Regions from separate parts of the Homo sapiens genome. Here region 1 is linked to region 2. The links come from fine-mapping of genetic effects on gene expression. A gene starts in region 2. The other region holds a variant in brackets. All regions are shown on one strand. Distances are between the middles of the regions.

Region 1 (15,895 bases), 56 kb after region 2:
TCAAGTGATCTGCCTACCTTGGCCTCCCAAAGTGGTGGGATTACAGGCGTGAGCCACTGTGCCTGGCCTTATTTTTTTTTTTTTTTTTTTGAGAGAGACCAGGTCTCACTCTGTCACTTAGGCTGGAGTGCAGTGGCTGTATCATAGCTCCTGCAATCTCAAACTCCTGAACTCAAGTGATCCTCCTGCTTCAGCTTCCCAGGTAGCTGGGACTACAGGCACATGCAGTCACACCTGGCTAATTTTTAAATTTTTTGTAGTAACAACGGTCTTGCTTTGTTGCTCAGGCTGGTTTCGATCTCGCAGCTTGAAGCGATCCTCACATCTTGGGCCCCCAAACCACTGGGATTACAAGAGTTTGAGCCACCATACCTGGCCCTTGCTGTAATTTATTAAGCTGGTACAGTATGCCAGGCACTATGCTAAGTGGTTATTTCAAGTATCTCTTTATCTTCTCATACCCACTGTGAGAAGGATGTGGTATTATCTCTAACTTACAGTGGTTTCAGGACTCCATTTTCTACAAGTTAGAGACCCCAAAGAGCCTGTGTTTCTCTGGGTTACATCTAAACGTATTTATTCTTATTAGAAATTAAAGCAGATTGATTTAAAATAATCAATTTTTTTAGATTAAAAATAACTTTTCTAAAACAAAAACAAAAGATTGCCATTTCCCTGCAATTTTGCAAATCTCTTTAATGTCTTTTTTTTTTTTTTTTGAGATGGAGTCTTGCTCTGTTGCCCAGGCTGGAGTACGGGAGTACGGTGGCATGATCTTGGCTCACTGCAGGCTTCACCTCCCAGGTTCACGCCATTCTCCTGCCTCAGCCTCCCGAGTAGCTGGGACTACAGGCGCCCGCCACCATGCCCGGCTAATTTTTTGTATTTTTAGTAGACATGGGGTTTCACCATGTTAGCCAGGATGGTCTTGATCTCCTGATCTCGTGATCCGCCCGCCTCGGCCTCCCAAAGTGGTGGGATTACAGGCGTGAGCCACCGCGCTGGCCTTAATGTCACTTCTTGATTCAATCTATTGTGATACACTGTTTAGGTTCAAGTATAGGAAGAAAATTCAGCCTTGCGTAGATATGTAATTGGAAAAAGGAGTTTGTTTTTGTTTTTTTAAAATAGGGTTTCACTCCAGTCACCCACGTTGGAGTGCAGTGCAGTGATCTCAACTCACTGCAACCTCCACATACCAGGCTCAAGTGATTCTGCTGCCTCAGCCTCCCAAGTAGCTGGGACTACAGGCCCTTGTCACTGGCGCCCAGCTAATTTTTTAATTTTTTGTAGAGATGGAGTTTTGCCTTGTTGCCCAGGCTGGTCTCAAAACTGGGCTCAAGCAATCCGCCTACCTCGGCCTCCCAAAGTGCTGGGATTACATCTGTGAGCCACCACTCCCAGCCAAGGGAGGTATTTTAATAGTCTTTCAGGTAATTGTGTTTATTATTCTCTGATATCCACCAAAACTCAATGGAAGTAACAACTTTTTTTGTTTGTTTGTTTGTTTTAAGAGATGATGTCTTGCTTTGTTGACCAAGCACCTCCCGAGTAGCTGGGACTACAGGCATGCATGGCTATTTGTAGAAATGGGGTCTTGCCATCTTGCCCAGGTAGTCTCAAACTCCTGGGCTCAAGCGATTTCTTTTGCCTCAACCTCCCAAAGTGCTGGGATTACAGGTGTGAGCCACTGCTCCTGGCAGGTTCTTAAAAGTTAGTTGCAGTGTGGAATCTGAAAGGTCAGTGAACGTTTCATACTGTTAACACTAAAACCCATTGGTCTCTTCTGAATGGATCTTTCACCCATGCATCCTTTTATAACATCATACTTTGGTCATTTAGAAAATATTGGTGCACTGGCCTATCGACAGCCTCCAAATGTTGTTAAATATTATTATAAATTTAATTTTTTTTTTTTTTTGAGACAGAGTCTCGCTCTGTCGCCAGGCTGGAGTGCAGTGGTGCGTTCTTGGCTCACTGCAACCTCCACCTACCGGGTTCAAGCGATTCTCCTGCCTCAGCATCCCAAGTAGCTGCGACTACAGGTGCACGCCACCACGCCCAACTAATTTTTGTATTTTTAGTAGAGAGGGTTTCCCCATGTTGTCCAGGATGGACTCAATCTCTTGACCTCGTGATCTGCCCGCCTTGGCCTCCCAAAGTGCTGGGATTACAGGCATGAGCCACCACGCCCGGCCATAAATATTTTAAAAATTACATTTGTTAGTATCACTAATAATCAAAAAACTTGGAATTTTGGGAAGTTTCAAGCTCACAGTTGTGAATGCCGCTTCTCTGAAATGCTAATATTTGTTTGAAAGCCTGAATTTTACTATTGGCAACAGATACTGACTTTTGTTTTCCTTGACATGACAGGCGTTCACTTCATGCATTTTCAAGAAGATGTCTGCCAGATACCTAAGTCTGAAAAGCCATAGTTTGTCAGTCACTTTTTTCTTTTTTTAAATTTTCATAGAGTTTTTTAAAGACAGGGTCCTGCTCTGTTGCGCAGCACCACTGCTGGAGTGCAGTGGCATGGTCATGGCTCACTGCAGCCTCATCCTCCCGGCCTCAAGCAGTCCTCAGCCTTCCGAGTAACTGGGACTATAGGCGTGTGCCATCACACCTGGATAATTTTTTATGTTTTGTAGAGATGGGGTCTCCCCTGTGTTGCCCAGGCTGGTCTTGAACTCCTGGGCTGATGCGATCCTCCTACCTCTGCCTCCCAAAGTGAGGGATTACAGGCATGAGCCACCATGCCTGGCCTAGTAATTTTTTTCAAATAAAACTGGTATTCCATGAACAAAGCAGCTAGTGTAATTCACAACTCAAACAACACAGATAGATTTCTTTGAGACAACCAAAAGTGTCTTATGAGGACTTAACACATGTACTCAATGATTAAGATTTAACAACATTAATAATTTTTTACTGCTTCATCAAGGGATATTGTTACATGCAATCTAGAGTTTTTGCTCTTTTCTCCTAAATTATGAGTGTACAGTGGTGAAAAATGCAATAACAACTAGTAGAGCTTAGGGTCAGTGCCTTGATCTGTGCTCAGGTGCCAGCAGTTGTACCTATCCTAGGTAAATGACAACACAGTGACAAAGGCTAATAGTTTAATATTATAAAAATAGCCATGTCTCACTTGCTCCCTGACAGTGTCTCAGGAACCCCTCAGAGGTTCACAGACCACATTTTCAGAAGTGCTGTTATAGGAGGTGGAACTGAATTGCAGAGAACTTAAACAATTTATCAAATATCAAACATTTGAGTAGTTAAATCTTAGAACACCTCAGATATTGGGTGTAGGAGGCTGTAGTTTATGCCTAATTGTTAGATTGATACAAAATGTATTTACTGATTACCTATTCAGTAAATGAATTGTCAATAAGTAGGGAACTGTTTCCACTCAATAAATGAACTGTAGCATGATTGTAAGAGCAGATGTGAGCATCCACATCCTTTTAGACTCACTGCCCTGCCCCTCTCTCATTTTTTAAGCCATGTCCCTAAGGACCTTCTCCCAGGTATACCTATCAGACCTTTCATTCAGCCAATATGCTGAATGAAATATCCCCCCGTATACCAAGCCCTATGCTGGGAATACGATGAGGACTTGGGGTACTTACCTGCTTCTGGAAGGAATAAAAGTTCTGAAGTACTTTGCCAGGTCCCATGGTAGGTGACTCTTTTTCATCTTTCCTGTTAAGAACATATTTCTTGGTTGGGCACAGTGGCTCATGCCTGTAATCCCACCACTTTGGCAAGCCGAGGCAGGCAGATCACCTGAGGTAAGGAGTTCGAGACCAGACTGGCCAACATGGTGAAACCCCGTCTCTACTAAAAATACAAAGATTAGCTGGGCATGGTGGCACGTGCCTGTTGTCCCAGCTACTCGGGAGGCTGAGGCAGGAGGATTGCTAGAACCCAGGAGGCTGAGGTTGCAATGAGCCAAGATCAGGCCACTGTATTCCAGCGTGATCTCAGCTCTCTGCAAGCTCCGCCTCCTGGGTTCACACCATTCTCCTGCCTCAGACTCCCGAGTAGCTGGGACTACAGGCGCCTGCCACCACACCTGGCTAATTTTTTGCATTTTTAGTAGAGATGGGGTTTCACCATGTTAGCCAGGATGGTCTTGATCTCCTGACCTGGTGATCTGCCTGCCTCAGCCTCCCAAAGTGCTGCGATTACAGGCATGAGCCACCGTGCCTGGCCAAAAAAAACACATGTCTTATAGTTGAGTATGGTTCTAGTATTTCTTCATGGCAGAGCCCTGGAGAACCCGCAGGGGAACAGTTGAGGGAATGTAAGAAGGACTCTTGATTCTGGCACTTAACTCCTGTGTTTACTAAGTTTGTTATAGCTGGATTTTTTTTTTTTTTTTGGTCACCTAGAAGCAGGAGAGGGCAGAGATAGGGGCAGACTTTGACTTAGCAAGGTCTTTAACTGTTAACATTTTTCAGCCCAGAGAGCTGCCTTGCTCTCTAAAACAGTTACTTTGTCCTGGTTCACTCTTCCCTGAGTAGAGGACAGTTACCTTTGTGTGCAGGTGGACGTTCCTTTCACCCTCCTTCCTTCCTGTTTCCTCAGAGCCAGGACTGTCTCCAGTTTGGTCCTCCTGCTGAAGGGGAAGTGGTCCAAGTGAGATGGACAGACGGCCAAGTCTATGGAGCCAAGTTTGTGGCCTCCCACCCTATCCAAATGTACCAGGTATCCAAAGTTCTACCTTTCTAGGGAGTGGGGGGTGCTTGATTAATTCTGTGCTTCCTGTTGGGCCAGAGGCGAGTCTTTGCTCTTAGGAGAACTAATAGGTTGGTAACCCTTTCAGAGCTAGGGGTCTGCCCTGTTTCCAGTCTGCCAAATGTGAAGTAAGGTAGTTGTTATTTTAGTGTTCTAACTCCTTCCTTTGACTGTAGGGGACTGCCACTGTGCATGGTGGACCAGGGAAAGAGTCAGGGATATCCTAGCCAAAAGGCCTTTGTTTCCTTGGTAGGTGGAGTTTGAGGATGGCTCACAACTTGTGGTTAAGAGAGATGATGTATACACACTGGATGAAGAGCTTCCCAAGAGAGTCAAATCTAGACTGGTGAGTATTTTCTGTGTCCCCCCAGTTCCTGTCTTGGAGGGAGGGAACAAGTCAAGGATGCATCCCTTTGTATTGTTCCTGGGGTAGCTGACACTTGGCTTGCTTATTCTTCTATAGTCAGTAGCCTCAGACATGCGCTTCAATGAGATTTTCACAGAGAAAGAGGTTAAGCAAGAAAAGAAACGGCAACGAGTTATCAACTCAAGATACCGGGAAGATTATATTGAGCCTGCACTATACCGGGCCATCATGGAGTAGGTGCTTCCAGGGTCCAAGGGATTCTCAGCCATCCAGGCAAGAGCACTCTGGGTTCCACAGCACAGCAGACATGGAACGCTGAAGTCTCTGAAAGTGAAGTTGTAAAAAGAAAAGGAATGAAATAACCGACCCATCATCTTCTCACCCACCCTCATTGCATTCCGCTGTAGTGAAAGGACGAGCCATTTCTGGGCACGTGGCAGCAGTCGCTGATCTCCCAGCTGAGGGGCTGAGCACTGGAATGCTGTGGCTGCACTGGCCCCAGTCCATAGAGGGGTCAACTATGCTGGCTGGACTGGCTGCCTTGTTCCTGGCCTAGGACTTAGCTTCATAACTATCACCTGCACCGACTAGGCTGAGGTGCTGGTACTTGCCCCAACCCCTACTTTTGTATTTATATGTGTGTGTGTGTGTGCGTGCGTGCGTGCGTGCG[T/C]GTATGTTTGGTCTGGACCAGCTTCTGCCAGCCCCTGGCCTTTACTTTCTTCCTTGCCTATGCAGGGCAAACAAAATGTGAAATTCTGCCCTCAGCTGAGCTGAGTAAGGGCTCCTGGGGGTTGGCTGGAGATGGGTGTGGCATCTGTCCAGGCCTGGAACCGTCTCAAGACAGTGCTGGCAAAGCTGCAGTATTGAGATGCTAAGGAGCTGATGCCACCTCTTTGTCTTCCCCTAAAGGAGAACATGGGGATAACATGGGTGTGTGCCCACAACACTCTAGGTGCAGAGCCCCTGTGGCAAAGTATTACAGGGTGTGGGTGGGGATTACCCTGAATCGGGGATTTTAATGATGGAAGCAGGCAGAGCCTGGTGGGTGATTCTGTCAACAGAAAATTGCAATCATGCAGGGGCTGGGAGGGTTAGGATGAAAAAACTGGGGCCATTGGAGGCCCACTGTAGGTGGGAGGGAGCTGATTTTGGGGTGGGGGGTGGGACTAGAGGGCAATACTGAAGGGGTTAAACAGGTTTTTGCTCCTCAAGAATTTGTTTGCCTGGGCCCAGGATTGGAGGGCTTCACACCAATACCCTGTGTATACAAGAATCAGATTTATAATACTTCCCCTTTTTTGTTACGTATGAACACTATAAACCAAATTATTTTGAAAACTGGTGCATCACCTTGTCCTTAGCAATAAAATGTGTTGAGCAGAGGATTGGCTGTCTGCCCCAAGGAGCCCACGTGGCCCACGTCAGGCTGGGGGGTGTATCTAGAGTCATAGGCTCTGGAGCGGGGCTGTGTATTTTAAGACAAATCAGTAAGGCATTCCCTAGGAAGTTCCAGAGAGTGGGTCCTTTGCTTGTCAAGCTCTGTATTAGGCCAAGTATGGTGGGTCATGGGAGCAGGGACACTTCTGGCTCTGAGCACCTCTTTGTTGTGCTTGCTCTGCCTTAGAGACGGGCAAGATGAGGTAACAGAGGAAGCACCAGACCAATGAGTCCTCTCAACAGAGTATCTCTCACTGCTGCCCCATTTGATACATCTTTGTTGAACTGGCCTAAGTTCATGCCAGCATCTGTGCTCTATACAAATTGTGGAACCAGTGGGAAGGATGGGTGCATTTTAGGTGCTTGAAAAGCAAGGGACTCAACCTCCAGTGGGATCCTCAGATTGCTCTCCGAGCTGTCTAGTTGGTGAGAAGCTTCCCTGGAGGAAGACCCAATCTCCTTTGGCTGGTAGATCCCTGAGGTCAAAGTGGACAAGGATGGGGAACCACAGAGCAGGGAGGGGGGCAATGAATAGGTGCAGGACTTGGGTGCCCCGGAGCTGCACCGGCTGGCCCTTAAACAGCCAGGCACTTCCTGTGGCATGGCCCTGTCCAGGTGCAGGAGAGGCTTAGGTCAGTTCAGCTGCTCTGGATGCTTCCTTGTGTCCCTGGGGGTTGAGAGGTGGTTGCTACTTGGTATCTCATTGTGGAGAAAGGGAGGTGCAGGAGGTGATCTTTTCTATGTCAGCTCCCTCCTGGGGCCCAGGGAGGGAAGTTGGCCTTTTTTTTTCTTTGCCCACACTCCACTTGGGGATTCCCAGGGGATGTAGCAAGGGAGGCTGGGCAGAACCAGGCCTTAGTGGATTGGTGAGAGAACACTAATCCATACATCTTTGGAAGAGAGGAACACTTCACCAGCCTTTTTACACAGGATCCCTACCTTTCTCGATGACCCCACTGCCTCCAGGGGTGGGCGCTGGGTTTAATCCCAGCAGTTTTTACTCAACAGCTGACCAGTTTTCCAGAAACTGCACTTTTTTTTTTTGGTCAACCTAATAACTCTTAGGAAACTGCAACTCAGGTGATCCAAATCACACAGACCGGCCCGTTCTCTCCCCTACTGGCTGCCTATGCAGTCGGGTCGACCTCAAGAGAACTGGCCCCAGCCAAAAGCGGCACCTCCCGGCCTGCCAGTCCCTTCCTGCCTTAGGCAGCTCCTCCCAGAAGCCTTTTTGTAGGGCAAACTGCCTTCCCTTTGTAAGGTAGGGCCTTTGGATCCAAGGTTGCAGTTTAAAGACCACCCCGACTTTGTTGAGGAATTAAGTTTTAAATTCCGCCCCAGGCGGATAACACCAGGGCTCAGCCGCAGGAATGAAAAAGGAGTGGGAGGGCTGCAAAGTGTACGTGGGGCTTGGAGGCCTTGTGCCACGCGCGGACTAAAAATGTTCTACGAGTCTCTTAACGCTCACCCCCGTGCCCCCTTACCCACCAGGGCCCACGGAGGTCCGAAGCTTTCGGCCTCAGTGAGCGGAATGGGTGCGCTCACGACCTGGAGGGCGAGATGAGATGTCCCTCGGCGTGAAGTGGCCGTGACTACCCTAGCACTTTGCGTTCCCCGCGCGGGCGACGAAACACGCTCTCGAGGGGAGAGAGCCGTGCGTCCTCTGGGCCGTGAAGCCAGGGGAAGAGGGTTCCTCTAGACAGCTCGATGTGCCCGGGAGAGACACCCACGCTGAACCTGCAAGCTGGGGTGCTCCACCAGCGCGAACCTCTCGCCCCGCACTCGCCGCAGCACTGCTCTCGTGGTAGGCGGGGTGGGCGGGACGGCAAATCCGCGGCTCCTGCGTCTATTGGGCTGCTCGGGGCAGCGCAGCTCCGCATTGGCCAGGCCCTCGCTCCGCCCGGCTTCCGCGAGCCCATTGGTCGCAGGCGCCCGACCGGGTCGCGGCCGCGCGCTCCGCCCGCCGCTGCGTCCCCACTATGGCGGCGCCCATGCAGCCCAGCGCGTTGTGGGCTCCCGCCGGGGTCCCCCGCGGCTGTCGCCGCCGCCTACGCCGCTGCCTCCGCCTTCCTGCCCCGCGTCGGGCCGGGCGCCACCTCCCCCCTGCCTCCCTCTCCGCTGTGGTAAGGGCCTGCCCAGTGCGCTTCGGGGCGCGATGGCTGACCGCGAATAACGGTCGCCGCTCCGCCCCGCCCCTCCCCCGCCGGCCGCGGGTCCCGGGCTGGGCGGGGCGCGGAGCCCGCGCGCTAGTGCCCGGGAAGGCGGGGTCGGGGCACGGCCCAGTCGTCCTTCGGGCTGGGGGCCCAGTACCTGGATGACCTCTCCTGGGTGGGGGCCGCCGAGCCTGGGGGAAAGGCCGGCCGGACGCAGGCCAGGAGGTCTGAGATCATCTCCGTGTGAAACCCCGCAGCGCTGCGCACCTTGGCGCAGAGCACGGACACCGTCATTCGGGCCCTGCTGTGGGAAAAGGAAAGAAAAGTCCAGGGAGCGCCTGAGCGGGAATCGGCAGCGTTTGGGTAGCGGTTGTCATTGCTTACTGCTCTAGCGGGGGCCAGAACTGGGGTCAGTTTGATCGGCAAAGTACGCCTCTCTTGCTTCCTTTCCTTCTGGCACTTTCCCCCGTTGTGTCCTCGGTGCTTTTGCTTGCAAGAGAAAATATCTTAGTGAGGAGGGCAGGTTTGGTTAGGAGAGTGTCCCATGAACATTTTGGATTCCTTTTTACAACAATGTCCATTTTTATGATTCCTCAGTAAGCCTCATTTATGTTTCCTTCACGTATGAGGAAGGAGTGAAACCTGATAACTGAATGTAATTAATTGAGGGAAGGACCAGTGAAGGCGGCTATTACCTCAGAAAGTAAAATACTCAAACTTTTCAGTGGATGTACTGTGAATTATAGATAGCTGGACATTAAGGTAGGAAAAAACTCTTATTAGGTTACTAAAAGTAAGATAGTCCCCATGACAAATTAGGTTGTTTCTAAGGCAGAATTATCTTGTAGAGATGATCACTGAAATGTTTGGTGTACTTTCAAGTCAACAGAGGATTAAAAGGAAGCTGGCACAGAAATTTATAGCCAAATGATACTTTCAAATAATCTCTTAAGGCAATACAGCTCCTCCTATGATTAGAGATTCTTAAGGATATTTTGAGATATTAAGTGGTGAATCTCTCCATTTCGCGTGTCTAACTGTCTAACCATGGTTTAATAAAAATAAAATGTTAACGATGAAACAAGACATTCATGTTCTCAGAGACTAACAGACTTTGTATCAATCAATGGAACGCCTCTTGAGTACATATTTTATGCAAGGCATTGACTGAGGGGAAACTCAAAACCATTTAAGATAAGAAACTTGCTCTAATGGGCCTATAATATACTTGAGGGAATAAAGCACACACATGACAATGATAACTGTGATATGGTCTCTAGAATTCCAAGATGGTAGGTACTCTGAGAAACCGAGAAAAGGAGAAATCCATGTGTTTGAGGAAGGTTTCACAGGGAAGCTGAGGCTTGAATTGGGTCATGAAGAGTGGGTAGCCGGCTGTATGAAGGGGAAGAAGTGAGCAGATGAGAAAGTGAGGATGACAAAGGTGCAGGGGAACCTGAGATGCTCATGGGTGGTTCCAGGGGGTTTCTTAGCAGAAAAAGCAGGATATGAGGTTGCACAAAAGGTAGGTTGATGGCATTAATCCAAGAGGTACCTTTGTCCTGTGTGGTGCAAAGAGTAAACAAGTAATAGAATTTACTTCAAAGGAAGCTGTAGCTAACTATCAGGAATACAGTAACACTTTACTTGTCATTGTCACTTTTTCTTTTTTCTTTTTTTTTTGAGACAGGGTCTCCCTCTGTCACCCATGCTGGAGTGCAGTGAATGTGGCTCTCTGCAGCCTTGACTTTCTGGACTCAGGCGATCCTCCCACCTCAGCTTCCCAAGTAGCTGGGACCACAGGCAGGTGACCTGGAGAATTAAAAAAAATTTTTTTTGTAGAGACAGGGTCTTGTCATGTTGCCCAGGCTGTTCTTGAACTCCTGGGCTCAAGAAATCTTCCCACCTTGAGTTCGAGACCAGCCTAGCCAACATGATGAAACCCCGTCTCTACCAAAAAAAAAATACAAAAAATTAGCCAGGCGTGGTGGCAGGCGCCTGTAATCCCAGCTGCTCGGGAGGCTGAGGCAGGAGAATCGCTTGAACCCGGGAGGTGGAGGTTGCAATGAGCCGAGATCGCGCCAGTGCACTCCAGACTGGGCAACAAGCGTGAAACTCGGTCAAAAAAAAGAAAGAAAGAAATCCTCCACCTCAGCCTCCCAAAGTGTTGAGAATATATGCGTGAGCCACCACACCTAGCCCATTGTCGCTTTTCTGATTCACCTCAGCTACTTGGAATAACAGTTCTCTCAACCCAGAAGCGGCACCTCAAGTTTATTCTTACTTTTCTTCTTTTTTTCTCCCCGTGTTTTTGGTTGGGTGCCAGGTCTTGTTGACCCTACTTCCACACTGTTTCTGGCATCTGCTTCTATTTTTGAGTCAGAGCCTCCCTCTGTTGCCCAGGCTGGAGTGCAGTGGCCCCATCTCAGCCCACTGCAACCTCCACCACCTGGGTTAAAGTAATTCTCCCGTCTCAGCCTCCTGAGTAGCTGGGACGACAGGCGTGTGCCACCACACCCGGCTAATTTTTGTATTTTTAATAGAGACGGGGTTTCACCATGTTGGCCAGGCTGATCTTGAACTCCTGATCTCAAGTGATCTGCCCACCTTAGCCTCCCAAAGTGCTGGGATTATAGGCATGAGCCACCATACCTAGCCTGGCATCTGCTTCTTTTCACTCCTACTGTCATCACACTGATCTGGGGCCATTGGACCATTCCTGTGAATTACCACAGAAACCCCCTAACATTTTTTTCCTTCCATCCATCATGTGTATTGCCATCACTTCCAAGTTTGTCACTTCTCCAGCCAGGACTTTGAATGGCTCCCCATTATCTGTTGCGTTAGGCACAGACCAGCCTGGCATGGGCAATATGGGCAAACTGATTTCTTGCCATTCTGTTATATTTTCCAGGTCAATGGAACTATTTGCTCTTTGTGCTTTGCTGTTTGTGCTCTGTATCTTTGCTCATGTTGGCTTTTTCTATCTTAAATAGTCTCCTTGACTTTAATTGTTCTTACGTATGTTTCAGGGCCATTTGATACGGAACTTCCTTTGTGAAGCTTATCTGTACTTTTTCTTCCCATCTAGATGAGCTGTCTCTCTTCTTTAAGTTTAAACCACCATAACATTAGAGTCTGCCTTTTTGCGATAATTGCCTTAAATCCTGCTTCTACCCACAGTATAAGACTGAAGCTATTTCAAGACATAGACTGTCCTCTTCATCATCCAACTTTGTACATAGTAGGTACTTGGCAAATATATTTTATATTGAAAATAGCTTTGAATCAGGATGGATGCAGAGATAATTCTTTATCCAAACAAAATGTTTATCATTAAAATCTATAAATAAAGTTGTTTATGTGAGAGAATCCCTTACTGAGAGATCTGTATTGACATAGATAGCTTGGATTAGGCTGCACTAACAAAAACCTCAAGACTTCAGTGGCGTAACAGAACAAAACTTGACTTCTCATTCATGTGACGTGTCCAGCATGAGTGTACAGGAAACTCTTCACAGTTACTCAGGAACTGAGGCTGATAGAAACTCCATCTTAATATGGTACTGCCATGACCATTTTGATTAAATGAAAAGATAGTGGTCAAGTGGACACTGGCTTTTCAAGTTTCTGTCCCACTATGGCACATGCCACTTTCATTCACATTTTCATTGGCCAAAGCAAGTCACATAGCCATGCCTAACTTTAAAGAAGGTTAGAGAATTTCAGTGTTAGCATATGTCTGGGAAGCAAAGAGCCAGAAATATTTGGTGCATAGCACTAATGACTACTACCTCATCTGGGGTATCACAGCCCATTGAAGATTAGAGGTAGCACATCAGATGGGCTGCTAGAGACAAACATTGACAGTAGCAAGAAATAATAGCTCTAACCAGGCATGGGGTAATGGTAGATTCAGAGTCAAAACTCTTCCAAGCACTTGTAAATGCTCACAGGCCAAGGGTGTTGATACAAGGGCAATCTGTTACATCCGAGTTATGACACAGTCATTCCTGAGGAATGTCTTTTACAAAACTTACTATGTTACAGCATTCTTAGTAACAAATACAGCAATGGTTCTGAGATAGCAAAAAATAAAAGTTAAATTATATTCAGGGTATTCAATTTATAAGAAATTGGGAAATGTGTAATAATTTTAGGTGCATTTTCACTCAAATGGTTAAAATTAAAAAGTAATCTTAGTTTAACCTTACTGGTTTAATTGAACCTAGCAAACTTGGTATTTGGGGAGGAGGTTTCACTTTTGACAGACAATAGAAACAGTGCTGGTTGGAGCCCTGGTTCAGGAAACAGATTTGGGTTCAGATCTTGGCTCTTCCACTATTAATAGTTGTCTGACATTAAGCAGGAATCTTATTTTTGAGCCTAAGTTTCCTCATCAGTGAAATGCATGGGGCAGTTGTGAGAATTAAACAAGTCAGTTCATGTAAAGTGCTTTGCAGAGCACGTGGTTCACAGTAAGCACTCATGATCACAGTGCTTCTAACCAGCTGCAGCAAGGTTAGAAGAAACTTGAGAAATCAGGTAAGGAGCCCTCAGAAATACAGGTAGAAGGGTTCCCCTGGATTTCCCCACCTTTTTTCTCCCTTGGACAGCATCCCTACGATCTCTTATTTTCACATTTTTCATATTTTATGTGAGTGTATACATTTCTTTCTCTCCTACTAGACCAGGTGCTCTCATCATCCACAAATGTGTACTGAACATAAGCTCTGCCAGGCTCTGTGCTAGGTGGTGGCTTGATAGGTATGAAGGACATGTCCCTGGCCTCAAAGAACCTCCAGTCTAGTAGGACCAGAAGCAAGTAAAGAATACATTATAACCAGAAGCAGAATACATTATAACAAGGGCTGTGGTTGAGGGTCTTGTGGGATCTTCTAAAAGCGCACCTGATATCGTGGGGAATATGAGTACTGGTTTTCTAGGGAAGTTCACATCTGACCTACATCTTGAAAAATCAGTAGTTATTAGCTGGGTGGATATGGGTTTAAAAGGCTTTTCACACAGGCAACAATGTGTGCTGTGGCCTAGAAGCAAAGAATGTGGCTACATCCTAAAGACACTGGTGTGGCAGGAGTATGGAGCCTGTTGGGGGAGTGTGTGGGAAATGAGGCTGCAGAAATCGGTCAAGAATAGATTGTGAAGGTCTTTGTGAGTTATGAAGTTAGAGCTTTATCCTGAAGGTGATTAGGTGCCACTGAAGGATTTGAAGATAGAAAGTGACTACTTTGTCAGCTTTGCCTTTCAGGAACATCACTGTGTGGAAGAGGCAGAATAGTGAATAGCTATTTCCCTCACATGGGGAGTTCTGAGGTTTGCATCCATAGTACCATGCCTACTACACAAGAGTCATAAAATATTTATGCAGGATGAAGGTTAGAATGAGGTAAGACTGGACGGAAGGATAGTTACGCTGGTGCAACATGTGAGCGGCATGTCTGTGTGCTTCCTAGGGCTAGATGAGCAGCAGACCAGGATTTCAGTCATAGCCTGGCCAGTTTCTATTGTGTCACCTTGGATAGGCTTCAGAATGTCATGTCTTCTTGGTTTTCAAATTTGGAAAATGAGGACAAAAATTCCTACCTTGCCAGGTTGCTCTGAGGATTGGAGGGAATAGGTGTAAAAAGCCTGGTCTTGAGCTATTAGTAGATCTATACAAGTAATAGTTTAATAATAAAAAACAGTTATAATATTTCTAATCTTTAGTATATTACCTGGTTCATGGTAGGTGATCACTAGTCTTAAATCTCACTACCTAAAGATGCCAACGTTGTGGGATTTTTTTTTTTTTTTTTTTTTGAGAAAAGTACTCACTCTATCACCCAGGCTGGAGTGCACTGGCATGATATGATCACGATTCACTGCAGCCTCAACCTCCCAGGCTCAGGTGGTCCTCCCACCTCAGCCTCCCAGATAGCTGGTACCACAGGCACTCACGCACCACCACGCCCAGCTAATTTTTTGTGTTTTTTATAGAGATGTGGTTTCACCATATTGCCCACGCTGGTCTCGAGCTCTTGGGCTCAAGTGATCTGCCCAGCTCTGCCTCCCGAAGCGCTGGGTTTACACGCGTGAGCCACTACGGCCAGCCACGTTGTGGTTTTATTTTTGCATTTATTTTAGGTCTTACTAACAAGGATATGCATTTTAAGTGATGGATGATGCTAGGCTGGGAGTGTTAGGCATAAGGGAATTACTCTGAGATCAAAAAGAGACAGTTGATAAGAATGCCATACGGGCCGGGTGCAGTAGCTCATACATGTGATCCCAGCACTTTGGGAGGCCGAGGTGGGTGGATTATCTGAGGTTAGGAGTTCGAGGCCAGCCTGGCCAATGTGTTGAAACCCCGTCTCTATTAAAAATACAAAAAGTAGCTGGGCATGGTGGCAGGCGCCTGTAATCCCAGCTACCCAGGAGGCTGAGGCAGGAGAGTCACTTGAACCCGGGAGGCGGAGGTTGCAGTGAGCCGAGATCGTGCCACTGCACTCCAGCCTGGGTGACAAGACAGGGAAACTCCATCTCAAAAAAAAAAAAAAAATCCCATACAAATTTAAACATTGTTGCTGGGCGCAGTGGCTCATGCCTGTAATCCTAGCACTTTGGGAGGCCGAGGTGGGCGGATTGCCTGAGTTCAGGAGTTCCAGAACAGCCTGGGCAACACGGTGAAACCCCGTCTCTACTAAAATACAAAAAAAAAAAAAAAAAAAAAAATTAGCTGGGCATGGCAGCGTGCACCTGTAGTCCCAGCTGCTCTGGAGGCTGAGGCAGGAGAATTGCTTGAACCTGGGAGGCGGAGGTTGCAGTGAGCCGAGATCACGCCACTGCATTCCACCCTGGGCAGCAGAGCAAGACTCCATCTCCAAAAATAAAAAATTTAAACATTGCTTAAATGCCAACAGTTTATATGGCATTTAGCTATTCCCAACCCTTGCTCAGAAGTGACACAAATGTGTGTGACCATAATATACTCATCAGATGGGGTTGCTAAAACATACACACTTCTCCTCGGCCTGTCATTGCTGACTTCTTCCCCCTGAAATTTTGCTCCTCCTCAGTCATCTTCTGATGATTTTTTTAAAGATAGTAATGGAAGTTTAATTCATATTTATTTTCCATTAGATTCTTTATATGATCATCCTGGCTTGACATGAGTTCCTCCTCTCTCAACTCC
Region 2 (15,895 bases):
CTCAAAAAAATTATGCTCAGTGAAAGAAGCCAGACACAAAAGACCACATAGTCTATGGTTCTATTTATATGAAATGTCCAGAAAAGGCAAATCTATATAGACAGAAAATAGATTAATAATTGCCTGGGGCTGGGGGTGGGAATGGAGACTGATTATAACTGGGCACGGGTAATCTTTTTGAGGTGGTAGATTTTATTGAGGTGATGGAAATGTTCCAAAACTGGATTGGGTGATAGTTGCATGCGTTTGTAAATTTATTTAAAAATCATTAAATTATATTATTAAAAAGAACATTGTTAATGATAGCATATATCTAAATGTAAACAATTTTTGTGCATATAAAGCATTTAGCACAGTGTTTGAAATATAACAGCTCAATAAATGTAGTTAACTTTGTTTTGTTTGTTTGTTTTTTGTTTTTTGTTTTTTTTTTTGAGACTGAATTTTGCTCGTCACCCAGGATGGAGTGCAACGGCACGATCTCGGCTCACTGCAACCTCCACTTCCTGGGTTCAAGCAATTCTCCTGCCTCAGCCTCCCGAGTAGCTGGGATTACAGGCGCCTGCCACCATGCCCAGCTAATTATTGCATTTTTAGTAGAGGCAGGGTTTCACCATGTTGGCCATGCTGGTCTCTAACTCCTGACCTCAGGTGATCCACTGGCCTCAGCCTCCCAAAGTGCTGAGATTACAGCAGTGAGCCACTGCACCCAGCTGTAGTTAACTTTTTTTTTTGGGGGGACGGAGTCTCGCTTCGTCACCCAGGCTGGAATGCAGTAGCGCAATCTCAGCTCACTGCAAGCTCCACCTCCCAGGTTCATGCCATTCTCCTGCATCAGCCACCTGAGTCGCTGGGACTACAGGCGCCCACCACCACGCCCGGCTAATTTTTTGTATTTTTAGTAGAGACGGGGTTTCACTGTGTTAGCCAGGATGGTCTCGATCTCCTGACCTCGTGATCCACCCACCTCGGCCTCCCAAAGTGCTGGGATTACAGGCGTGAGCCACGTCACCTGGCCTAGGTGTAGTTAACTTTTTAAGCGAATAATATTGCCATTATGATTACTTATGTCATGCCTGCCATGTGCTCGGCATTGTGCTGAGTGCTGGATAAAGTGAAGCTCTAGGAAAGGAAACCCTGGACTGGGAACATGGCATACACTTTATGCCATGATAGCTTTATTTCCAAATCCTGCTGCCATTGGTGGCAAGTCACTCTAAAGGTGTTCTCCCCTATTCTTTTCCTTCATAGCAAGCACAACTTTGTGGCAATTTTTCTTTTTTTGAGATAAGAGTCTCACTCTGTCATCCAGGCTGGAGTGCAGTGGCTCCATAATAGCTCACTGCAGCCTCGAATGCCTCAGTCTCAGGAGTAGCTGGGGTTACAGGTGTGAATCACACCCAGCCTATAATTTTCTTTCTTTGTGCAAGCACTTGCTTCATGTCTCTCTCTCACTAGATTATAAAAACCATGAGTGCAGGAAAGGGTCTGTTCCACTCATTACTGGCAGGCAGGCAGATTCTGGTAGTCTTTTTGCTGGTGTGATAGAAGAAACAGGACACTGTCTCTGTCCTCCTTCTGGAGCTGCAGCAGTCACCTTACAATCACGAGTTGCACAAGAGGGTGGCAAAAGCCACGTTGCAAAGGGTGCAAGAGAAAGATGGAACATACCTGTATGTTTCATGACTTTGTTGAGCACTGAGCTAAGGCTCACCACCTTCAGACCTCTTATCCGATGAGAAAATAAACTTGTATTTAGCCACTTTTGCTAGGGTTTTCTATTTTTGGCAATGGAATACATTCCTAAACGGTATTAGCAATAAGACCAAAATGATATTCTCACGAGACTTTTGTCTAGTGAGGAAAGATGCACATGTAAACAAATCCATGCATTTGTAAAATACTTGCTTTGTGGAGCTCTGGACAGGGTGAGGTAATGGACTGCACCTGGCTTAAGCAATTAGGTCATGGCTCTTCCACTAACTGAGATAGGAAACCTAGGAGGTACAGCTTATTTGTGGGGCAAGAGTAGCTCTTTGTTGGGTAGGTCAGCTTTAAGTAACTGTAGGACAACTAGGGGGAGGGATCCAGAGACAGCAGGATACATGGATCTGAGCTCCAGGGAGAAGATGTCTGGGATATACAATGGGTGTCATCAGTGTGCACATGAGTGCAGCCTAAGAGTGAAAGTGTATTGAGCTCTTGTTTCAGGCTCTGTGCTAAGTGCTTTGTACCATCATCATCATTTACTGAGCTGACATTTACTGAGCACTTACTACGTGCCAATTAGACTTCTAACTGGTTTACTTCATTATCCCATTACTTCATTTATCTCATTCAATTCTCACAACCCAGAAAGGGAAGTACTATCCCAGTTTTAGTTATGAGAAAACTTGAGAACTAGAGAAATTAAGTAACTTGCTAGTGAGTTGTAGAGCCAGAAACACCTGCACGTGGGCAGCTGTCAAAAAAACAAAAACAGAAACAGAAACAAAAACCCACCTGGGCAACATGGCAAAACTCCGTCTCTACAAAAAAATACAAAAATTAGCCGGGCTTGGTGGCATATGCCTGTAGTCCCAGCTACTTGAGAGGCTGAGGTGAGAGAATCGCTTGAGCCCAGGGGGTTGAGGTTGCGGTGAGCTGTGATTGCACCACTTCACTCCAGCCTGGGTGACAGAGGGAGACCCTAACTCAAAGAAAAAATAAAACAAAAGCACCTAAGAAGACTGTGTAGAATGAGAGAAGAGGGCAAAGGACCTAAAGCTATGAGGACATTAACATGTTTTTCCTTTTTTTTTTAACTAAAAAATTTTAAATTTACTTTTAAAAACTAAGGTATATGTATATCAAAACTTATGCACAACTTTCAAGCATACAGATCAGTTAATTTTCACAGCCGGGCATGTTCATGCTTGGAAATTCCAGCACTTTGGGAGGCCAAGGCAGGAGGGTTGTTTGAGCTCAGAAGTTCAAGACCAGCTGAGACAACATAGGGAGACCCCACTTCTATTTTTTTTTTTGAGACAGAGTTTTGCTCTTGTCACCCAGGCTGGAGTGCAGTGGCGTGATCTCGGCTGACCGCAACCTCTGCCTCCTGGGTTCAAGCGATTCTCCTGCCTCAGCCTCCTGCGTAGCTGGGATTACAGGTGTGCACCACCATGCCCAGCTAATTTTTTATATTTTTAGTAGAGATGGGGTTTCGCCATGTTGGGCAGGCTGGTCTTGAACTCCCGACCTTAGGTGATTTTCCCACTTTGGCCTCCCTAGTGCTGGGATTACAGGCATGAGAGCCACTGCACCCAGCCTCCCAGTTCTATTAAGAATTTTTTGGCCGGGCGTGGTGGCTCACGCCTGTAATTCCAGCACTCTGGGAGGCCAAGGCAGGCGGATCACCTGAGGCTGGCAGTTCAAGACCAGCCTGACCAACATGGTGAAACCCCATCTCTACTAAAAATACAAAATTAGCCGGGTGTGGTGGCTCATGCCTGTAATCCCAGCTACTTGGGAGACTGAGGCAGGAGAATCACTTGAACCTGGGAGGTGGAGGTTGCGGAGAGCTGAGATCACGCCGTTGCTCTCCAGCCTGGGCAATAAAAGGGAAACTCCGTCTCAAAAAAAAAAAATTTTTTTTTTAAATTTAAAATTTTAGTGGCCAGGTGTGGTGGCTCATGCCTGTAATCCCAGCAATTTGGGAGGCCAAGGTGGGCAGATCACCTAAGGTTGGGAGTTTGAGACCAGTCCGGCCAACATGGCGAAACCCCCTGTCTACTAAAAATACAAAAAATTAGCTGGGCGTGGTGGCACACGCCTATAATCCCAGCTACCTGGGAGGCTGAGGCAGGAGAATCGCTTGAACCCAGGAGGTGGAGGTTGAAGTGAGCTGAGATGGCACCACTGCACTCCAGCCTGGGTGATAGAATGAAACTGTCTCAAAAAAATATCTATCTATCTATCTATCTATCTATCTATCTATCTAACCAATAAATAAAAGTAAGTTTTACAATGTGAACACACTAGCATAACCACCATCTAGATGAAGAAATAGAACATTGCCGCTGGGCGGAGTGGCTCGTGCCTGTAATGCCAGCACTTTGGGAGGCCGAGGCAGGTGGATCACTGTGGTCAGGGGTTCGAAACCAGCCTGGCCAACAGGGTGAAACCCCATCTCTACTAAAAACACAAAATTAGCCGGGCGTGGTGGCACGTGCCTGTAATCCCAGCTATTTGGGAGGCTGAGGCAGGAGAATCACTTGCACCTGGGAGGCAGAGGTTGCAGTGAGCCGAGATCACACTACTGCACTTCAGTCTGGGCAACAAGAGCAAAACTCCATCTCAAAAAAAAAAAAAAAAAATTCCTAACACCCCAGAGCATTCTTTGTGCCACCCTTTCCCATCATTCCCTGTCCCCTACCTAAAAGTAACCAGAACATTGACTTTTATTGCTATAGGTTAGTTTTGCTTAGAATATCGACATTTAAAGCGTGCAAAGGGGCTGGGCACGGTGGCTCACGCCTGTCATCCCTGCACTTTGGGAGGCCAAGGCGGGTGGATCACTTGAGGTCAGGAGTTTGAGACCAGCCTGGCCAACATGATGAAACCCTGTCTCTACTAAAAATACAAAAAAAATTAGCCGGGTGTGGTGGCGGGCGCCTGTAATCCCAGCTACTCAGGAGGCTGAGGCAGGAGAATCATTTGAACCTGGGAGGCGGAGGTGGCAGTGAGCCGAGATCGTGCCTGGGCAACAAGAACGAAACTCCGTCTCAAAAACAAAAAAACAAAAAAGCAAGCAAACAAACAAAAAGTGTGCAAAGGGAAAGGTGAGCTTAAAAAGGAAACAGGAAAACTGGTCAGAAAAATGGGAGCATATCACGAGAACTTGATTTAGGCTCCACCTATCACATGCACATACCAATTGGAAGCTAGTGATACACAGTAGAGGGCCCTTGGAAATCATCTGGCAGCACCAGGAAATACAGCAAAATCCAGTTTATGGAACACAGTAACAGTAACTAGCGACTGTATCCATGTCCAGGACAGTGGAGTCTGTGAAGCAACCTGCAGTATCTTGTGCTTAGTGGCAGCAGGAAAGACAGTGGTGGATGAATTCTACCGCAGGATTTGGGTTTTCTTTATGTGTCCTGCAAGTTGGATTCTTCAGACTCGGCACTTTTGTGAGCCACTCAGTATAATCTATTATCTAATACTGTCGATTACCTTACTGGGTAAGGGCAAAAACCCCTATTGTGAAAGACTTGTGGCTGCGTAGCCAACGGCCATTCTTTTTGAAACAGTCATTTCTGTTTTTGAAACTATTTTTTTTAAAGATTTTTTTTTCAGTAGGCATGTACCCAGCCTGAGGCATAAATCATGATTGGTCCATAGCATTCTATGAAATATGTTCTTTTTGCCAACATTCATTAACTCTCATCTTTACAAAATTTGCAAGGCATTATTTTTTCCATTTTATTGATGTGAACTCCCAGGCTCAGAGAAGTTACTAGTTTTGAACACAGGCCTGACTCCATATAGCTCTTTCCAGGGCACTACCCCATTATTCATCCATGGTAATTCTGTATATTTTTTTATGACTCTGGTTGTGGGTATTTTACTTTCCTACTTGACCTTCCCCACTACCCTTGACAATCTGGGAATTCCTTAAGGCGACTCACTACCCCTCAGGAACCGCTCCTAATGACTTCTAGGAAGCCCCCTCGCCCTCCAGAAGTGCCTCTTCTGATTCCCAGGATGCCCCCCTCTCCGCCCCAAGAGCTGCTCCTAATGATCCCCCAAATCCCCGCTCACTGAGGAACTGCTTTTTTTTTTTTTTTTTTTTTTTTAGACGGAGTTTCACTCTTGTTGCCCAGGTTGGAGTGCAATGGCGCGATCTCGGCCCACCGCAACCTCCGCCTCCCGGGTTCAAGCGATTCTCCTGCCTCAACCTCCGGAGTAGCTGGGACTACAGGCATGCAACACCACGCCCGGCTAATTTTGTATTTTTTTTTTGAGTAGAGACGGGGTTTCTCCATGTTGGTCAGGCGGTCTCAAACTGCCGACTTCAGGTGACCCGCCCGCCTCGGCCTCCCAAAGTGCTGGGATTACAGGCGTGAGGGACCACGCCCGGCCAGGAATTGCTTTTTAATGACCCTAAGGAGAGCCTCCCTCATGGTCTGTCCTAATGACCCTCAGGGCAGCTTCCCTTCCCTGTTCAGGCTTGACAGCGAATGAGGGGTTTCCAAGGCCACGGGATTTTGTTTTGAAAACCGAGACACCCAGGACAAACCGGGACAAGACGGTCATCTTTTCAGCACTCCCTGAGCTCGGAAGCTGCCCCTAAGGGCCCCGACACATTTCCACGTTAGGCAAAGAGGATACTCATCCCAAGAAAACTTTGGCCTATCCTTTCGTTAGCGACATCCTATAGTAACCTCACCGCCCTTACCCATCTACCGGACCGGCCCACTTCCAGGTACTAGCTTCTTTCAACCCTGATTAGTTATGGGTGACCAGGAGCCCGCCTATGATTGGCCAGCTTCGCGATCCAGCTAGAGGCTCACTGGCCGCGGTCCCTAGTGGTACAGCGTTTCCTCCCGGCAACAGCCCGAGCCGGCGCTCATAGGCTGAGCACACTGAGGTCGGGACTGGGAGGTGGCTGCGGCGCGTGCTCATTGGCTGGTGTATGGCTTGCAGCCACCCTTGAATTGGTTGACTCTGTACGGCTGCGCAGATGCCGACTTTAGAGGAGGCGGAGTTTCGGCCTTCGCCTGCTGGAAAAGCAGTAGGATCGGCCAGTGGCGACAGCAGGAGCTGAGCCTAAGCCCTGGCGGGGCTTTGGGCTGTAGGTGAGAACTATAGGGTTTTGGAATTCTCGAGGATCATTGCCGCTGTAGCAGTGACCGTGAGTTTTGGTGGGGGAGGGGCGGTGGGGGTGGGTCTTCCAGCGGTGAGTGATCGGCATGTTTCTCGGCCAATAGGAGAAGGAGCTTCCAGAATGGGTTCTGAGATTGGTCCTTTCCAATCTTCAAGGCCAATGGACCTCGGGAGAGGGGGGCGGGTCATCTGGGCCTTATTTTCTTCTTCCTGCGGCCGAGCTTCACTCGCCAAGGCGGCGGGGCCGGGAGGGGCCGAACCTGTGCGCGGTGAGGTTCGGGGACGGTGGGGAGCAGGGTGCGCTGCCTTTGGAGTGATGCTCGCGGGAGCGGCTGCGAGGGAAGGGTGCGGGAGTCCGAGGGGGTTGTTAGCAACAGCTAGCTTTATTGAGTGGGTAAGTACCGGGCCTAGTGCTTAGTGCTTCGCTTGCATCATCTGAGCTAATCACAGCGACCCTGCAGGGCAGGGGGTTGGGATCCCCATTTTACAGGTGGAGAAACTGAGACTCAAGTCAGCTCACACAGCCAAGGTCACATAGCTAATAAACGGCAGAGACCGGATCTGTATTCAGAGTTTTGACTTCGGAGCCGGTGTTCTTGAATCTCTAGGCTTTGTTACTGATTGGGAGGGAAGGTGTCATGAAACGGGAGCTTTCCCCAGGGAACAGATTTGGGGGAAGGGAATCCTAGGGTTGAAGAAGGGATGAACAATTGAGGTGAGGGTGAGGAAATCAGTTTTTCAACAGTTACCGATTGCCTACTCTGTGCCATGCATTGTTCTAGGCATACAAAGATGAATAGGGGCAGAGGCTGATGAAGCCCATTAGGGCCCCTTTGAAGGCCCGGGGAAGGGCCCCAACATTGTATTCACATGATTGTATGTTTTTATAAAATGTGCAAAAGTAAGATATTTTGGATTCATTTTTCTTTTTAAGAGGGTCTTCAAAATTAAATAAACTTCGGGTTTCTCCACACTTGGAGCTGCCCTTGCAGAGGACTTAGTCCAGGTGGAGATGAGTATGTAAGCAGTATAGAGCAGTGGAAGGTGCACTTAAGAGTGGGCTGTGGGCAAATTTCCTGGTATGTAAAACAGGGAGAACAGTATACCTGCCATGCAAAGTTTCTGCCAGGTTCATGAAAAGCGCCTGTTTAGAAACACGCCTTATTTTTGATAGGAAGCCTAGGAGATACGGGTAACTGGATTTGCCTTCTCTCCTACCTTACACAGTTGTGCTCCGTGTTCTGCTCCCAGGCCTGTAACTAGATTTCTGGTGGATTGGAGGCGCTTTTCTCCTTTCTGAGCTCTCCAACTCTCAAAGAGAGTCTTGGAGCTGAACCGCCATACCTTTGGGCCCCAGATAGGGGGTACGGAACTGCTGGACCCTCAGTGAGGAGGGTGGGTAAAGGAAAGGACATACTGGTGTTCCTTCTAGAATGGCCTATTTTCATTGATATGCTTTGTCTTTTTTCAGTTGAGGTGGTCTATTGCGTTACCGAGCTGTGGGGATGCACCCACTTAGCTGAAGTTCTCATCTAAAAACAAAGTATTTATTTTGCTTTCTCCAATCAGTTATGAAGTTTTCCGTGTATTGCCAGTTTAAATTTTGTCCTTTGAGTTCTGGGTACAGTGCAACTGAACTTGTCTGTAGCTTGATTTCATTAAGTACTGCTGAAACTGCATCTTAGTTTCAACAGAACAGTTTCACTTTAGGGTTTTAAAATTATGTTACTAATATCAAAGGGCTTTTAAATCATGTTACTAATATCAAAGTACTTTTGAACCCTTAAGTTTTGTTATCTTGTAGCCACGTAACTTTTATTAGGTATCTGGTTTAGCTGTGCCCTAGGGAGGAGCCTTGGCCTCCCAAAGTGCTGGGATTACAAGGCGTAAGCCACCGCACCCAGCCATGGGTGGCTTTCAAGTTGTAGTGTATTCTGTTTAATACTCTGAAAAGTGATTAGCAAGGTGTTAATAAGGGAGTAGCTTGAAAGGATAAGGGTAAAATATGGGCATTTTAGCTGTACTATTAGGACCAACAACTAAATAATTAGTTTCCTTTTTTTAGCTGAAACAATTTTCTTTTTTTTTTCTTTCAAGAACAATCCTATTGCAGTAACAATGTCTCTGTTGAAATAAGGTTTGAATCCATGCAGTTTTGATACATCAGGTTCTTTTTAAACAGAACCTTTTCGATCTGTATTTCTAGTTTATTTAAATAACTTTTTGTTGTTTATTTAAAAAAAATTTTTTTTGAGACAGGGTCTCACTATGTTGCCCAGGCTGGTCTCAAACTCCTTAACTCAAGCGATCTGCCCACCTCAGTCTCCCAAAGTGCTGGGATTACAGGCTTGAGCCACCACACCCCCACCCTAAATTACTTTTCTTTCTTTCTTTCTTTCTTTTTTTTTTTTTTTTTTTGAGACGGAGTTTCGCTCTTGTTGCCCAGTCTGGAGTGCGATGGCGCAATCTTGGCTCACTGCAACCTTTAGCCTCCCGGGTTCAAGTGATTCTCCTGCCTCAGCCTCCCGAGTAGCTAGGATTGCAGGTGCCCGCCACCATGCCCAGCTAATTTTTTGTATTTTTAGTAGAGACAGGGTTTCACTGTGTTGGCCAGGCTGGTCTCAAACTTATGACCTCAGGCGATGCACCCGCTTTGGCCTCCCAAAGTGCTGGGATTACAGGCGTGAGCCACCGTGCCCGGCCCCTAAATAACTTTTCTAGAGGTAGATTCCAGGTGTGAAGTCTTAACTGTGTCTTTTGAATTTCTATATTATCTTTTACTGTTTTCAGAGTTGATGTTTCCAGCACTTAATTTTAATTTTTATATTATTTTATACTCTTAATGTGTTTCTTCAGATTCCTGTCTGACTAAAGGGACCTCAAAAAGGAGGGAAAATGGCTTCTGAGTCTGAAACTCTGAATCCCAGTGCTAGGATAATGACCTTTTATCCAACTATGGAAGAGTTCCGAAACTTCAGTAGATACATTGCCTACATTGAATCCCAAGGAGCTCATCGGGCAGGGCTAGCCAAGGTAAGGAGCTGGGATTGTTCAAATGGTTTTGTTACCTAGGGCAGAGCAGTAAGATTTTTTTCCTACATTTGGGCCGGAACTGTGTTTTACTGAAAGTTGGGTGGGGTGATGACTTTAGTGAATGCGGTTCTATTTGCAAGTTAATTCCCGTTGTTAACATCAGAAGCATCTCTGCTTTTAGGTAGGAAGAGAGCTACTTGGAATCTTCAGAAAGGGGGAGGTAAAGAGCTAGTGTCTCCAGGCCTGGCTGCTGTTGTGCCTCAGCCCTCTTGGTGGAGCTGGGTGCTGTGGTGTTATTGAACTGCCAGTGAGTGCTTATGCCATCTGACTTCTCTTGCTCTCATTTCAGTCTCATCCAGCACTCTAGTAGCAATTTGGCTTCCCATGTGGACTTTCTTCAAGGGGAGAGAATGCACTGGCCAGCCAACATGAGTATTCTGGTCCTTGTAATTTGAAATTGGTTTCTGGTTTGTACTTCTTTCTCCTGTGAGTTGGATTCGTTATTTTTCCTGAGTCAAATCAGCTTTTCATATATTCTGTCACAATCAGGTTGAGTGCTGGAAGCTGAAAGAACTGCATTTCTGGAGAGATCCTCAGGAAACTGAGAGGCAGGGACCTCAGTCTAAGCCAGGAGGAAATTTTTTACACCATTTTATGTTGTTTGAATTCCCTACCATATGTGCTTGTTACATTTTCAATATGAAAAGAGAAAGCAAGAACATTGGCTACAAAGCTGAGGACCAGTCTTGGACCCTGGTGCCTCCAGAGACTTGAGACGACCACATCCTCTTTCTTATCTGCAGATACGGCTACTGCTGGGTTAATAACAGCAGGCGGGAATAGCAGGGCCTGCAGTGCAGTTTTTCATAGCACATTGCTTTTTTTGGTTGTACTTTATTAGATTTAAAGTTACCAAAAAAATGTCGGTTATTACAAGTTAAATATTTCAAACGCAGATAAAGAAAAGGCTGATCTTCATCCACCTTCTCCAGTGCCGTCTCCTTAAGTGGTATTAGCTCCCTCCACACCTTTTTCTCTGCTCATACAAACATACACACATATAAAATAGTGTTATTTGTTTTGTTTTTAAAAGAGAATGGCATCATGCCATATACATTCCTGTGTTGGTTCGTTCATTCTTTTTTCTTTTTTTTTTTCTTTTTTCCTTTTTAACAACATATATTCCTCCCTCTAGGTCAATTATGGATTCAACTCATTCTTCTTTTTTCTCATGTCGACTGTCTTGTTAATTTATTACTATTGGAATGGGTAATTTGATTATGTGAGTAAAAACAGAATGCTATTGGAAGGTAGCTAATGTAGAGTCTTGCTCCCTTTCCGTATTTTCTTATATGTCCTTTCAGTGTTGCCTTATGCAGATGCTTGTGAGTGTGTGTGTGTGTGTGTGTGTGTGTGTGTGTGTGTGTTGTTTTCTCCCTTGTTACATAAAGTAAAACAATACTCTCTAATTAAAAAAAAAAAAGCTGTATAGTATTCCATAAAGCAGATCTATCTTACTTAACTATTCAAGATTAGATTTTTTTTGTTTTTTTTTGAGATGGAGTTTCGCTCTTGTTACCCCAGCTGGAGTGCAATGGCGCAATCTTGGCTCACTGCAACCTCTGCCTCCGGGTTCAAGCGATTCTCCTGCATCAGCCCCCCAAATAGCCGGGATTATAGTTGAGTGCCACCACACCAGGCTAATTTTTGTGTTTTTAGTAGAGATGGGGTTTCACCATGTTGGCCAAGCTGATCTCAAACTCTGACCTCAGGTGATCCACCTGCCTCGGCCTCCCAAAGTGCTGGGATTACCGGCATGAGCCACTGTGCCCGGCCTCAAGATTAGATTTTTAAGAATGTTATGCTTCTTTGTAATTAAACTGTAATCTAGTGTGTGAAAAAAGGAAATTCTGTACAAGTATAGAGTTGACCAAATCAAGTAAAGTTGTGTTTGTGATTTTTTTAAAGAGAGCCCTGGGCTAGGAGATTGAGAGAGAATCAAGTCTTTAATCTCCTTTCTTGGTGTCCAAATAAGATACTGAAGCTGGGAACAAGTATTACTTACCTTAGGTTGCTGCAATTAGGCAGCTGGTTGGTGGCAAAAGTGGATCAGGGTTAGCATGCCTGTGACTTACTGTGTTTTGGTGAATGTGGGTAAATCAAAGTAACTGTCTAGTAAAATTGACTGTTAGGTTGGCTGGTAACTACATGCTTCCTGGACTCTGACTGGCTTGCCAGGTTTCTCATCTGTCTTTTTGTTTCTTGTGTTCCCTTCAGGTTGTTCCTCCAAAAGAGTGGAAGCCACGAGCATCCTATGATGACATTGATGATTTGGTCATTCCTGCCCCCATTCAACAGCTGGTGACGGGGCAGTCTGGCCTCTTTACTCAGTACAACATACAGAAGAAAGCCATGACTGTTCGAGAGTTCCGCAAGATAGCCAATAGCGATAAGTGAGTGGAAACCCTTTCTTACCTGACATAGCACCTAGGACCCTGGTGTCTCATCCTCCTAGCATCTCCAGGACTGCTGCTGTCCTGATGAACAGTGTCTTCAGCAGGATGGCTCTGTTCTAGCTGTCTCCCTTTCTGCTTTTTTTATGGAAGCATTCCCTCCTCTCAGGACTGTGTCCCAGTCTAAACCTGTTCCTGTTCTTATAACAACAAATCCCATTGTTTTTCCATCAGAAGTAGAATCATTTTCTGACTCTAAAGTTGCAAGGAGAAAGTTGGATGTGGTGCACAAGGAGCTTTTGCTGGGTATTATCAACCACCTGCTCATCAAAAGTGCTTTAGTTCCACTTCCTCTCTCTCGGGATGCTCTGTGTTTAATTGTGCTGGAATTTCTCACTGCCCATCCAGCCTGCTAGCTCATTTCTGTTTTGACATTAACAGTGTGAGTAAACCACCAAGCTGGTTGCTATTTTCTGTCACTCCTTCTTTCTCTGTACATTCCTGTCTCTTTTAGAGATATCTTTCTTTGTGTAGGCCTGTTTTCAGTTCTTCTCTGCTGTTGGTTTTTTTTTTTTTTTTTTTTTTTTTTGAGATGGTGTCTCACTTTATTGCCCAGGCTGGAGTGCAGTGGAGTGATCTTGGCTCACTGCAACCTCTGTCTCCCAGGTTCACGTGATTCTCCTGCCTCAGCCTCCCAAGTAGCTGGGACTACAGGCACGCGCCACCATGCTTGGCTATTTTTTGTATTTTCAGTAGAGACAGGGTTTCGCCACATTGGCCAGGCTGGTCTTGAACTCCTGACCTCAAGTGATCCTCCTGCCTTGGCCTCCCAAAGTGCTGGGATTACAGGCAAGAGCCACCACTCCTGGCCCTTCTCCGCTGTTTTTAATGTTTAGTTCTCATTTTTCCTGAGATTCACAGAGAATAAATTTTGTGTTTCCTTGTTCAGCTCTGACTACTCCATCTTTTTTTTTTTTTGAGGTGGAGTCTCGCTCGTTCCCCAGGCTGGAGTGCAATGGTGCAGTCTCGGCTCACTGCAACCTCCACCTCCCGGGTTCAAGCAATTCTCCTGTCTCAGCCTCCCGAGTAGCTGGGATTACATACAGGCGCCTGCCACCACGCCTGGCTAATTTTTGTATTTTTAGTAGAGACGGGGTTTCACCGTCTCTACTGTCACCCAAGTTGGAGTGTAGTGGTGCAATCATGGCTTACTGCAGCCTCGACTGCCCAGGCTCAAAATGATCCTCCTTGCTCAGCCTCCCAAGTAACTGGAGGTATAGATAGGCATGTGCTACCGCGCTCAGCTAATATTTTTTATTATTTGCTGCCCAGTTTGGTCTTGAACTCCTGGGCTCAAGCGATCCTCCTGCCTCAGCCTCCCAAAGTGCTGGGATTATAGGCATGAGCCACTGCATCCGGCTGACACCTTAACTCCTTTTATTTATTTTTTTTTTTGAGACAGAATCTCGCTCTGTCGCCAGGCTAGAGTGCAGTGGCGTGATCTCGGCTCACTGCAGCCTCCGCCTCCTGGGTTCAAGCAATTCTCCTGCCTCAGTCTCCTGAGCAGCTGGGATTACAGGCGCCCACCACCACACCTAGCTAATTTTTGTATTTTTAGCAGAGGCAGGGTTTCACCATGTTGGCCAGGATGGTCTCGATCTCTTGACCTCGTGATCCACCCGCCTTGGCCTCCCAAAGGGCTGGGATTACAGGTGTGAGCCACCGTGCCCGGCCAACCTTAACTCTTAAAACATCTACCTTGCTGGCCAACCTGCTGACCGATGAGAGAATTTACATAAAGGCATGTTGAAGAAATGTGGGGCTCTGCAGGTGAAAGGCTGTATCCTTCCTGCCATCCTTATTGTCTGATTTTTGCTACACATGAGGAGCAAACTCACCTGCCTTCTGTTTCTCACATGGAATTCAGCCAGGGGCTTCAGTCTCCTCAGCCTTTTTTCCCTTTTTGTTAAGGCTTTTTCTTTTCTTTTTTTTTTTTTTTTTTGAGATGGAGTGTCGCTCTGTCACCCAGGCTGGAGTGCAGTGGCACAATCTTGGCTCATTGCAGCCTCCGCCTCCCAGGTTCAAGTGATTTTCCTTCCTCGGCCTCCCGAGTAGCTGGGAGCCCGCCACCACGCCCGGCCAATTTTTTTGTATTTTTAGTAGAGATGGGGTTTCACCATATTGGCCAGGCTGGTCTCGCTTTTTCTTCTTTTAGCACACTTGTTTTCCTTTTAAATTAACCAGCCCTATGTCTATTCCTTTCGTCCTAATACATAGCAGATTACCTTTAAAGTAAAAACATAACTTTTTTTTTTTTTTTTTGAGACAGAGTCTCGCTGTGTTGCCCAGGCTGGAGTGCAGTGGCACAATCTCACTCACTGCAATCTCTGCCTCCCAGGTTTAAGCGATTCTCCTACCTCAGCCTCCCATGTAGCTGGGATTACAGGTGCCCACCACCACGCCTGGCTAATTTTTTTGTATTTTTAGTAGAGACGGGGTTTCACCATGTTGGTCAGGCTGGTCTCGAACTGTTGGCCTCAAGTGATCAGCCTGCCTTGGCCTCCCAAATGCTGGGATTACAGGCATGAGCCACCGTGCCCAACCTAAAAACCTAAATTCATGAAACAGATTAGTTGACAATAGGGGAGTTAATTGTATTTCAGAGAGAATGTTAGGTCTCTAAAATTTATTATTCCCTAGGTTGACATTAAAGTGTAAGGCAGTTACTTAGTCAGATTTTTTTTTTTTTTTTTTTGAGATGGAGTCTTACTCTGTGGCGCGGGCTAGAGTGCAGTGGTGCTATTTAGGCTCACTGCAATCTCCGCCTCCTGGGTTCAAGCAATTCTCCTGCCTCAGCTTCCCAAGTAGCTGGGACTATAGGCGCCCGCCACACCACCCGGCTAATTTTTTGTATTTGTTGTAGATACAGGGTTTCACCATGTTAGACAGGATGGTCTTGATCTCCTGACCTTGTGATCCGCCTGCCTGGGCCTCCCAAGTGCTGGGATTACAGGCGTGAGCCATTGCTGCTGGCCAGCTCTGCTAATTTTTAAAGTTTTTGTAGAAATAGGATTTTGCCATGTTGCTGGTCTCAAACTCTTGGGCTCAAGTGATCCTCCTGCCTCAGCCTCCCAAAGTGTTGGGATTACAGGCATGAGCCACTGTACTTGGCTAGTTTGAATCTAAAAGAAGTTTTTTTTTTTTTAATTAAATTTTCAGTATTAAGCTAAAGAGTATAGATATTTTTAGACTGGGTGCATTGGCTAACTTCTATAATCCCATCACTTTGGGAGGCCGAGGTTGGAGGATCACTGGAGGCCAGGAATTTGAGACCAACCTGGGCAACATTGCAGGACTTCATTTCTACAAAAAATAAAAACACCAGATGTGGTGGTGTACACTTGCAGTCCTGGCTACTCGGGAGGTTAGGGCAGGAGGATTGCTTGAGCCCAGGAGTTCGAGGCTACAGTAAGCTATGATCACACCACTGTGCTCCAGGCTGGGCAGCAGAGCAAGGATCTTGTATAGTTTTTTTTAAG

Evidence for each region. PIP is the estimated chance that this variant, and not a neighbour inherited with it, causes the effect.
Region 1: its variant is fine-mapped to the expression of KDM4A in whole blood (TOPMed, PIP 0.98).

Annotation. Positions count from the first base shown.
Region 1 is chr1:43,699,021-43,714,915 of GRCh38, forward strand. KDM4A (lysine demethylase 4A) reads left to right here. Exons shown (of 22, transcript NM_014663.3): 20 at 4,597-4,716; 21 at 5,000-5,092; 22 at 5,210-6,498. The coding sequence ends at 5,350. It overlaps ST3GAL3 (ST3 beta-galactoside alpha-2,3-sialyltransferase 3), which reads left to right and starts at 8,516. Exons shown (of 12, transcript NM_006279.5): 1 at 8,516-8,673. It overlaps KDM4A-AS1 (KDM4A antisense RNA 1), which reads right to left and starts at 8,321. Exons shown (of 5, transcript NR_033827.1): 1 at 8,039-8,321; 2 at 5,333-5,437; 3 at 4,544-4,627; 4 at 3,636-3,708; 5 at 704-1,732. ST3GAL3-AS1 (ST3GAL3 antisense RNA 1) reads right to left here. Exons shown (of 4, transcript NR_125986.1): 4 at 10,372-10,515. RefSeq lists enhancers at 7,951-8,468, 8,194-8,273 and silencers at 8,404-8,903, 8,934-8,983. The variant T/C (reference allele first, on the strand shown) is at 5,784.
Region 2 is chr1:43,643,411-43,659,305 of GRCh38, forward strand. It overlaps KDM4A (lysine demethylase 4A), which reads left to right and starts at 6,739. Exons shown (of 22, transcript NM_014663.3): 1 at 6,739-6,842; 2 at 9,727-9,903; 3 at 12,181-12,356. The coding sequence starts at 9,766. RefSeq lists a silencer at 6,506-6,625.